Homo sapiens: one gene and its partners. The protein of the gene in region 3 purifies or fractionates together with the protein of the main gene of each other region. This does not show direct contact. Each region holds a gene or a part of one and is shown on either strand. Other genes may lie near its edges. The genes, in order: PRMT2, CTSC and ESPN.

What was found.
Region 1: the proteins of ESPN (region 3) and PRMT2 purify together in Homo sapiens (affinity purification with mass spectrometry; one large-scale study listed by BioGRID and IntAct). This does not show direct contact.
Region 2: the proteins of ESPN (region 3) and CTSC purify together in Homo sapiens (affinity purification with mass spectrometry; one large-scale study listed by BioGRID and IntAct). This does not show direct contact.

The regions. Positions count from the first base shown.
Region 1 is NC_000021.9:46,662,599-46,665,727, forward strand, and holds the end of PRMT2 (protein arginine N-methyltransferase 2), read left to right. Parts: intron 1-784; coding exon 785-956; intron 957-1,696; coding exon 1,697-1,729; coding exon of another isoform or gene 1,730-1,776; 3' UTR 1,777-2,526; downstream 2,527-3,129. UniProt on the Homo sapiens protein: Arginine methyltransferase that methylates the guanidino nitrogens of arginyl residues in proteins such as STAT3, FBL, histone H4. Acts as a coactivator (with NCOA2) of the androgen receptor (AR)-mediated transactivation.
Region 2 is NC_000011.10:88,331,091-88,334,743, reverse strand, and holds part of CTSC (dipeptidyl peptidase 1 isoform a preproprotein), read left to right. Parts: intron 1-3,653. UniProt on the Homo sapiens protein: Thiol protease. Has dipeptidylpeptidase activity. Active against a broad range of dipeptide substrates composed of both polar and hydrophobic amino acids. Proline cannot occupy the P1 position and arginine cannot occupy the P2 position of the substrate.
Region 3 is NC_000001.11:6,431,170-6,434,822, reverse strand, and holds part of ESPN (espin), read right to left. Parts: intron 1-3,653. UniProt on the Homo sapiens protein: Multifunctional actin-bundling protein. Plays a major role in regulating the organization, dimension, dynamics and signaling capacities of the actin filament-rich microvilli in the mechanosensory and chemosensory cells.

The DNA of each region.
Region 1 (3,129 bases), on a different chromosome or scaffold from region 3:
CATCCCCGAGTCTGGGGGCGTGGAGGGGGCAGTGACCTGGGGCACAGGCTGGGGTGAGGGGTGTGACCAGAGTCAGGGAAAAACTGGAGACCTGAGGAGCCCCCCACTTCACTGCTGGCCCCACCGTGGACAGTGGGAGTTTGAGGGAAGACAGAGCCTGAGGAACTTAGAGATGTTTCCAACGCAACCCAGTGCAGAATCATAGCGTTTTACTATTTCCCCCCAAATGTGACAGTTGTCCTCACCTTGTAACCTTCACAGAAGCGACTCCTTGGACCTGATTCTGTCTGTGTACACCACAGTTTAACAGCAGGAGCTAGATCACCAGCCTCTGCAGCTTAGGCAAGGGTGCAGGAAGGGGTTGCACAGCCGTCCTCCTGGCGGGCCGGGGAGTCGACACCACACGGGACCTTTAGTGCAGCTGTGTGTCCCCTGAGCTCCCGCATCCTCTGGGCCACCCAGGGTGAGCCGTCCACACCTCCTGGAATCTGAGTGGTCTCAGGAGCAAGCTTGTGTTTGGCATTGGCAGGATCTGTCTCACTAGCGTAACTTTGATCCCAGTGTATCCCATAGAGTCCCTTTAGATCACAGGGCTGGGGGTGTATATGTTCCCTGAGTTAGCCTGAAAAGCCAAGCTTTGTGTCCCCAGGCCCTCAGGGTGGACTGCCGGCTGTGTGGGTGCTGTTGGGGGCGAGAGCCAGTGCGAGCCTGAGTCAGCGCCCCGAGGGCCATGTGGAGACTGCCCTAGCTCAGCCTCCAGGTCACACGCACCCCTGTCTTGCAGCACCACACACTGGAAGCAGACGCTGTTCATGATGGACGACCCAGTCCCTGTCCATACAGGAGACGTGGTCACGGGTTCAGTTGTGTTGCAGAGAAACCCAGTGTGGAGAAGGCACATGTCTGTGGCTCTGAGCTGGGCTGTCACTTCCAGACAAGACCCCACATCTCAAAAAGTAAGATACGTAGTTGTAAGATTCTGTCCTGTGGGTGCCGGTCCTCAGGGAGACAGGCCTGGGTGGTGGTAGTGATGGCAGATGCTGGCCCACACTGGGGTCCACGCCTTTTGTGCAGGAGTGATTTAATCCTTACACAGAAAGCGCCTGTTGTCATTGGCTTCATTTCCCATCTGACAGCACGGGAAGTGGAGGGCTCTGGAAGGGAAGTCAGGGAAGTCATTCCCTCAGGTGACACGGTAAGTGAGGGAGAGCAGAGACCCACATCAGCCTGAGGCCCCTTGTGCCATGTCCAGAGGGTCCCCCAGATGGACAGAAGCCTGAGCTGTGCCTTGGCGCTCCCTTTACACAGGCCTCTGTGGCTTCCCAGGCAGCAGTTAGTCTAGGCGTGTCGTCTGTGATGCGTGTTCTGACTGGCAGCCTTCGGATCCGTGTGTGAATTCATGTGTAGCTCGCCCAGCTCACTTGGGCTTCCTGTCTCAGAGGCTGCTGAAAATGGAATGTTCTTCTTTGGGCTCAGGATTAATGTGGCAAAGAAAATAAAAATAAATGGTTTTCCTTCATTTTTTATATTTGTTTTGTGCTTTGCTTTGTGATAAGTTTTTGTTAAAAGTTTGTCATTTAAAAAAATTCTGCACCTGAATACTGTTCTCTTGTCCAATATTAAACCATTAGGAAATGTAGTATGTTAATCAAATGATTTATCATCTGATTGACCTGTTGTCATTTATCTTTTTCAGGTTGGAGAAAAAGTCTTCCCCATCTGGAGATGACAGTTGATGCTTTATTTGGAAAGCAGTGTGCATATCTTGAGGGGTGATGAACACAAGCAAACCAAGTTGCACCTGGCTTCTGCACACTCCTGCGAAAGTCGGTGAACATTCACTCCACATTGACCCCTCCCTAGCCTGGCAGGTGACGTCAGGGTCCTTCACAGACAAACACGCTTGGGCTCGGCAGGAGCTGCCGTGGCCACCCCCGCTGCCCAGTGTCTGCCCTCTAGAAGTAGGCTGTGTTTCCAGGTGTTCACCCGTGGTGCCCACAGTGCCGACCCGTGGCTGGGTCGGAGCTCCATGTTCCTAAGCTAGGTCTAGGTCTACACTCCTAGGACGCACGCATATCAGCCCGTGTACCCTGTGACAGTGACTGTCCCCACCTCCTATGTTAGTGGTGCCCTTACTGCCGTCGCTCATCCACTCGTGTGGGACGTAGGATTGCACAGGGCTGTGCCAGTGGCGTGTAGGGAACACTGCCCTGGCTCAGCGTGCGAGCTAAGGTGGTGATGTATGCGATGGGACTCTGCATGGGATAGTACAGTTGTGTAGACGTCTTCCAAATAAATTATGTGTTGGTCCATCGCACATGCTCAATAAATATTTTTAAATGAGTGAATGTCATTGTGTATCCTGTTTTATGCATATATGTTATTTTTTGTAATTACAGGATCATACTATATGCATTGCTTTATAAGTTTTTCTCAATATTGTGAAAAAACTTCCACATCAGTAGATACATGTCCATAATTTTTTTTTGTATTGTTTTGATTTTTATTAAATTTTATTGAAATATAGGCTGGGTGCAGTGGCTTACCTCTGTAATCCCAACACTTTGAGAGGCTGAGGTGGGATGATTCCTTGAGCTCAGGAGTTCAAGACCACCCTGGGCAACACAGCGAGATACTATCTCTACAAAAAAAATAGAAAAATTAGCTGGGCATGGTGGCGTGTGCCTGTAGTCCCAGCTACTCGGGAGGCTGAGGCGGGGGGATCACTTGAGCCCAGGAGGTTGAGGCTGCAGTGATCTAGGATTGCACTGCTGCACTCCAGCGTGGGTGACAGAGCAAGACCCTGTCTCAAAAACCCCAAAAAACAAAACTGAAATATCAAATATATATTGAAAACAGTGCTAGTCATGGGTACATAGATGATGGCATTTTATAAAGTGGACGCACATGTAACCAGCATCCAGGCCAGGACACACTACAGATTCCCCGATTCCCCTTCCACTCAGTGCCCACCCTCTCAAGGGTGATGTCCTGACTTGTAACTGTCGATTACTCTTGCCTGAATGGAGTTGTACACGTGTTCTTTTGTGTCTGCCTTCTTTAATTAAACATTGTTTGTGAGACTCATCTATGAATTTTAGACAGTGTGGTTGTGGTTGACTTTTTCAT
Region 2 (3,653 bases), on a different chromosome or scaffold from region 3:
AATACCAGTGCTACATTTGAATATGTATAAATTATGTTTAAAATTTACATTTTGGTAAGTATGACTAAATTCTTAATTTATTTTCCTTATTACTACCACTTTATTTCTAAATGTTGCCATAGTCATTTGGCTTTGTTCTAAATCTGTAGGAAAGATAGAGAGATTACACATTTTGTTTTCTTGCAGTTACTATGCTGTCCTTCCTATCACTACCTGTTGGCTGAGGTAGTGATAGGCCTAAATGATTCATTATCTTAAATGTACTAAATATGTTGAGTAATTTTTTCTTCTAAACTAACAGAAAGAGAGAACCTAGGAGTTACTCCCTTAGGCTGGTTAAAGTGAAAGGTAGCCAAGTCAACCCAGCTTGTTTCCTTCTCTCATTAGGAAAGAACTATTGTTCATTCTCATAACACACTTTTTCCAATTGCAAACATACTCAGGGTTAAAATAGTTTAGCACAAATTGCAGCCCATTTCATTTGTTCTTCACAAGCTGGAACTTTTCTTGTAAGCTAAATATTAAATGGTTCAAGTAAATTGGATACATAAGCCTGAAACTAGGCGTTTCTCATTATACATAGAGTATAAATTAAGACAGACTTTTTCATGGTGAAAGGTTTACAGCCTTTAAAACATCTGGGAAGAAGTGGGAAAGTAGGGAATAACTCTGTTAAATATGATAAAAGACAAAGCACCAACAAAGGCCTAGTTCTAAACTTGTTATAATTTCTCATGGGAGTTGTGGTTTGTCACAAGGTTATGGCGGTCCAAGCAAGTTTACAATATTTTTTAGAATAATAACTCCCAGAAATATTTTTAAAATAAGGACCTTTCTTTAATATGGAAAAAAAAAAGATGAAATAGAGAGGAAGAGGTTGCCTTTCCTCAACTGGATTTGCTGGTGTGATATGCAGCTGGTGGAAACCAGTTTGTCCATGCTAGCTGTTGATGGCCACCAGTCCACTGAATTAGTGGAAACCCATGCTTAACCAGTTGTTAACTATTTTTAGTATCATTTCCAGATGCTACGCATTTTTTTTGTAAAAAACATACTTACAATAGTATCTATATAAATTTTTAAAATTGTAATGTATATGTGGTATATTTAACCTGAAAATAATCTTTGGTGTATACGTTGATGAGCCTAGGCCTTTGCAGACCTCTTACAGTTACTCTGTCACAGCCCTTCAAAGGTTCTTTGACTTCAGATTAAGAATCAATTGCATGTGGAATGCATGTGCAAAGGAAGAGATATTCAAGGCAATTGTTACCATGTACCATAAACCTTGTACATAATTTTTTGTCATTTTCTTTTCCTCTGTCTCTATCCCTTCTTCTTTGACACACAATAGACACCTAGTCAATTTATTACAAAAAAAATGAATGAATGAAGTGGAATTCAGTTGGGAAATAGGTTAAATAAATTATTTAGGAGATGAGGAATAGGTAAAAAGAGACAAGTACATAGTTTATTCTTTTGACTTAGAAAACTTTTGATTCTTAAATTCTGCAGAATTGGAGAAACTGGTGGGGAAACTTCTAAAATCATTATTTAATTACCAGAGATGTAATAGATATAGACAAAAGCAGTTTTCTTCTTTTATTATTTTTTCATCAGTTAGTTCTTAGCTTAAATAGTAGTCCAAAGCTGGTAGGGACAGAGGGAATTAGCTGGTGGCTGAATGAGGAATTGTATCACTTTTTGTGAATCACGGTGTAAGCACATTTGGTGTTTTGCCATTGCCTAAGAACATTAGTCACATTAGGTCAATAGAAAATCACTTTTTAAAGCCAAATAAAGTTATATGTGTTCCCAACCATGAGTTGGAAAGAATTAATATATATGCTGTTGGAGGGTAGAACCCTGCCTAATCATATGGTTCTGGATGGCATTGATCGAATCCTTATTCTTTCATTAGGAATAACAATAGAAAAAATACTCCTGCCCTACTGATTTCAGGATATGTCTATTTTAAAGTGCCCATTTGACAAAACCATTATCAGGGCCATGTTTTCTTTTTCTGCAGAAAAATCAACCACTCTGGTCAGTAGTTAGGTCTTATGACAAGCACCATAATTTCCTTAGGCAGAGTAGAATATAATAGGATACTTCTTTTTGAAACTTAATATAATCAGGTAGTTCCAGATAAACATAGCTTGCAAAGTGATAAAATACCATGTTATTTTAGTAAATCCAATTGCAAGAGTGATGGGAAACAGAGTTTAAAAACTTAAGAAAGATATTAAGATGGAGTTGACTTTGAATAATAAAGTCATCCACTGTTGATGGGTGACATTTATTAATACAGAAAGTTTACAGATTTTACCATAAGCATCAGGGTATTTCCTGCAGCTGGGGAAACCGTGCTTGAAAGGATGCGTAACTCAAGGAAAACACAAGCCCATGTAATAAGTATTGCATGTGAGAATTGTTCCTATAGAATTAGAAAGCATCTTTTACATTAAAATTTATTTTTGTAAAAAGAGAAAACATCAAAACTTGAGTAGTATTTGCTATTCAAAGAGTCTTACATAAACGAAAACATACTCAACCTACTGCCATTACAGAAATATTTGACAAATTCTTGCCATGCTTACCTGCCATCGTTGTTGTTATCCTACAAATCAATTGGATTTTCACGCCTCTCCACTGACTGGAACCCTACAACTTGCTTCCTTTTATCCTCTTTATATATGCTTCAGATATGCTTGAAGTAGATTGTTTCTTATTGTTCTTGCTGCTCGAGTTTGTTGAGTAGTTGGTACATGCAGAGTATTTGTATGTTATGACATATATAGGTTTTGTCCATGGTTCCTGGCTCATAACTCACTCCCAAGACCCTTGTTACAGAAACCAGAATCTCTCTCTCTGATCTTCTCCTACCCTCCTTTCATCTGCCCACTGCAGAACTCTAATCTGATTATGGTTTCTAAGACCCTCATACCAGAGAGTATTCTGCCCCATACCATAGCAGAAGGAACACTGCACAGAGACACCAAGAAGAATCTGAACAGACAGGCCTTGTTAGGTTTAGATCATGTCCTTATAACCTAATTATATTTTAACATGGTTATCCATGCTTTAATCATGTGTATTCAATGAACGCTCCATAAAAGCCCAAGAAGAACAGATTTGAGGGAATTCTGAAGCGCTAAACATGTAGGGTCTGACAGGAAGGTGAAGAAGAACTCATCATGCTGGAAGGGTGGTCCACCCTAACTCCGCAGGGACAGAAGCTCCTGTGTCTGGGACCCTTCCAGAACTTGCTCTATGTATCTCTTCAAGTGCCTGTGTATTTATATCCTTTCAAATATCCTTTGTAATAAATCATAAACATGTTTCCCTGAGTTTTTATGCCACTCTGTCAAATTAATTGAACCCAAAGAGGGGGTTATGGGAACCCCAATTTGAAGCCAGTCCATCAGAAGTTCTGGAGGCCTGGACTTGAGACTGGTGTCTAAAGTGGGCAGGCAGTCTTGGGGACTAAGCCCTCAACCTACGGGATCTGAAACTGTCTCCTGGTAGGTAGCATTGGAGTTGTACTGGAGGGCACTGAGCTGGTGTCTGCTGCAGAATTGATTGCTTGCTTGCTGGTGGGGAGAACTTCCTACATATTTTGGGGTCACCGAAGTCTTTTGTATTGATTGTTG
Region 3 (3,653 bases):
ACCATCCCCATCGCTTCCTACCAAACTGCTCATTTCACTACACAGCACTTGTCACTCCTGAATTATCTTGTTCTCCTATTCCTCAGACCCATACACACATGGATAGAAGAATGTATGGCTGACGTGATGACGGGCCGGGCAGTTGGGTGCACCCAGTTGCTTTTTGTTGAATGAATAAATATGAGAAGGGACATCCAGGCCAGGAGTAGGGGATCTCTCTTCACTCATGGCCTCAGGCTGGTAGGGCAGGTTAGGTCCACTTGCCAGACAGGCTTGGGAATGCTCAGAGGGGAGTTTTGTCTAGGGTCACATGCAATGAGCTATAGGCAGAGTGGACAAGTCCCTGGGATTCCATACCCCACTCATTCAGCAGACGTTTACTGGAGTCAGGCTCTGGGCATACAGAGCCGGGAAGACAAAGCCCCTGGCCTCATTAGTCAGGGACAGATGGGATGAAAACACACATCTGTCTGTGTGATGAAGGGCCTGGCTGGAAATTCGGGCATGCAGGGAGTGAAGAGATGGAATGTGTCTCAGGGGTTTCTCCTAGGGGTTAGCTTTTGGTTGTCACGCAGGATGCACACAGAACGCAAAGCCAGGCAACCATAGGGCAGCTGGGAGGCCAGGTGCAGTGGCTCATGCCTGTAATCCCAGCACTTTGGGAGGCCGAGGCGGGCGGATCACCTGAGTTCAGGAGTTGGAGACCAGCCTGGCCAACATGGTGAAACCCCATTTCTACTAATAATACAAAAATTAGCCGGGTGTGGTGCCATATGCACCTATAATCCCAGCTACTCGGTAGGCTAAGGCAGGAGAATCACCTGAACCTGGGAGGTGGAGGTTGCAGTGAGCCGTGCCACTGCACTCCAGCCTGGGCGATAGAGCGAGACTCAAGTCTCAAAGAAAAAGGGCAGCAGGGAACAAGGCCAGTGGGAGAGTGAGTGGGCATCATGGGTGCGGTTGACAATTTCAGCAAGGCTCAGGGTTGGCCTTGCTGAGGTGAGGTCTGGGCAAAGACTTGGAGGAAGGCAGGGTGCAGGCGGGTATCTCTGATCCCTGCAGAGGGATCAGCCTCTGTGAAGGCAGGGGCGCTGGCCTGTTGGATGGGACCACAGCCCGGAGGAGGGATGGCCTCTGGGCCATTGTAAGGAAGTGAGCAGCCTTCCCTGTCAGTGGTCAGAAGCCTGTGATGGGACTTGTTCTTTTTTTTTTTTTTGAAATGGATTCTTGCTCTGTTGCCCAGGCTGGAATGCAGTGGCACAATCTTAGCTCACTGCAACCGCTGCCTCCTGCGTTCAAGTGATTCTCATGCCTCAGCCTCCCAAGTAGCTGGGACTACAGGCAGGAACCACCACACCCGGCTAACTTTTTTTCCTCCTGAGATGGAGTCTTGCTCTGTCGCCCAGGCTGGAGTGCAGCAGCACGATCTTAGTTCACTGCAACCTCCGCCTTCCAGGTTCAAGCAATTCTCCTGCCTCAGCCTCCTAAGTAGCTGGGATTACAGACACCCACCACCATGCCCGGCTAATTTTTGTATTTTTTAGTAGAGATGGGGTTTCACCGTATCGGCCGGGCTGGCCTCAAATTCCTGACCTCGTGATCCGCCCGCCTCAGCTTCCCAAAGTGCTGGGATTACAGGCATGAGCCACTGCACCAGACCAGGACTTGCACTGTCTTTTCTTTTCTTTTTTCTTTTTTTTTGAGATGGAGTCTCACTCTGTTGCCCAGGCTGGAGTGCAGTGGTGCGATCTTGGCTCACTGCAACCTCCGCTTCCCTGGTTCCAGCAATTCTCCTGCCTCAGCCTCCCGAGTAGCTGGGACTACAGGCACGTGCCACCACACCCAGCTAATTTCTGTATTTTTTAGTAGAGACGGGGTTTCTTCATGTTGGCCAGGCTGGTCTTGAACTCCTGACCTCGTGTTCCACCCGCCTCAGCCTCCCAAAGTGCTGGGATTACAGGTGTGAGCCACCGCACCCAGCAGGACTTGTGTTTTCAAAGGCTGCGGGTGGACATGGACGGGTGAAGGCCAGGGCCTTTCAGGCTTACTGGGGACTTCCCCTTTTCCGTTCTGTAGTGCACAGCCTCACAGAGCCTGGCTGCTCCCATGGCCCAGCTGAGCCCAAGGGGTTCAGGTAGCCCCCACGTGAGGCAGAAAGGGGGTTTCTCAGAAGCCCTAGGATGCCCCAGCAGTGTGCTGCTTACAGAGCCCCAGGGTCCAAGGCTCAGCTCTCCCCCTTAGAAGGGTAGGGCAGGGGCACTAGCCCCGGTTAGACGACAGCTGGGACCAGGAGCTGCTGGTGGAGACATGAGATGGTCTCCTGCTGTGAGGGGCTGCTCCGGACTCCACCAGGCCCTTCCTTTCCCAGAGCCTCCACGTAGGTCAGGGGGTCAAGGACAGCAGCCACCTCCTCAGTGCGGACACAGGCCCTGCCCCCACGCCCTGCTGCCAGGTGAACTGACAGACACCAAGGGTAGACCTGGAGCTGGTGATCAAAAAGGAATGAGCCCCCACGGCCTGTGGCAGAATCAGGGGCTTAGTGGGGAAAGGGACCACCCCAGGCACAGCCTCCAGCCTTCTAAGGGGGAGAGTTGAGCCCTGGGCCCTGGGGCTCTCTAAGCTGAGAGCTGCTGGTGCTTCCCAAGAAACTCCCTTTCTGTCCCAGGTGGGGGCTGCCTGAACCCCTGGGCCGTGGGAGCAGCCAGGCTCCATGAAGCCTTGCACAAAGGAAGGGAAAAGGGGAAGTCTCCGGTGGACTTGAAAGGCCCTGAGTGATTAGGACCTGGACCAGGAGTGGGAGAGAGACCCAGAGAGGAGGTACAGCCTGCTCAAGGCCACACAGCAAGCCAGTGGTGACCACAGCTGGTGAATCAGCCTCTCTAAAACACCATTTCTGTACCTGTCAGCTCCACGAGGCAGGGAAGCTTGTCTGGTTCACCAGCATATCACTGGCATTTAGAATATTGCCTGGCACATAGAAGATGCTCAATAAACATTAGTTGAATGAGTCCATCTGTAAAATGGGCTGATTACATAGCTACTGCTCGGGGTGGTTGTGTGGCTCAGATGACACTGGGTGGTGCCAGACCCCTAGAAGATACTCAGCACCAGGTTCTTTTTCTTTTCTTTCTTTTCTTTCCTTCCTTTCTTCCTTTCTTTCGTTCGTTCCTTTTTTTTTTTTTTTTTTTTTTTTTGACAGAATCTTGCTCTGTTGCTCAGGCTGGAATGCAATAGCATGATCTGGGCTCACTGCAACCTCCGCCTCCCTGGTTCAAGTGATTCTCCTGCCTCAGCCTCCCAAGTAGCTGGGATTACAGGCATGGGCCACCTGTACAGGCATAGCCCGGCCACATGCCCAGCTAATTTTTGTATTTTTGGTAGAGACGGGGTTTCACCATGTTGGTCAGGCTGGTTTTGAACTCTTGACCTCAGGTGATCCACCTGCCTCGGCCTCCCAAAGTGCTGGGATTACAGGCATGAGCCACCGTACCCAGCCCCAGGTACTTTCCAATCCCATTCCAGTCTAGTCTGGTCGGGGGTAGGGGAGGCTTTCGGGGAAGGAGGCACCTGCTGAAGTTGATAAAATCTCTGGGCTAACTGGTTTTCCAGCTTGCTGTGACTGGCAGCACCCACGAGCCCAGGGGAAGAGCCTG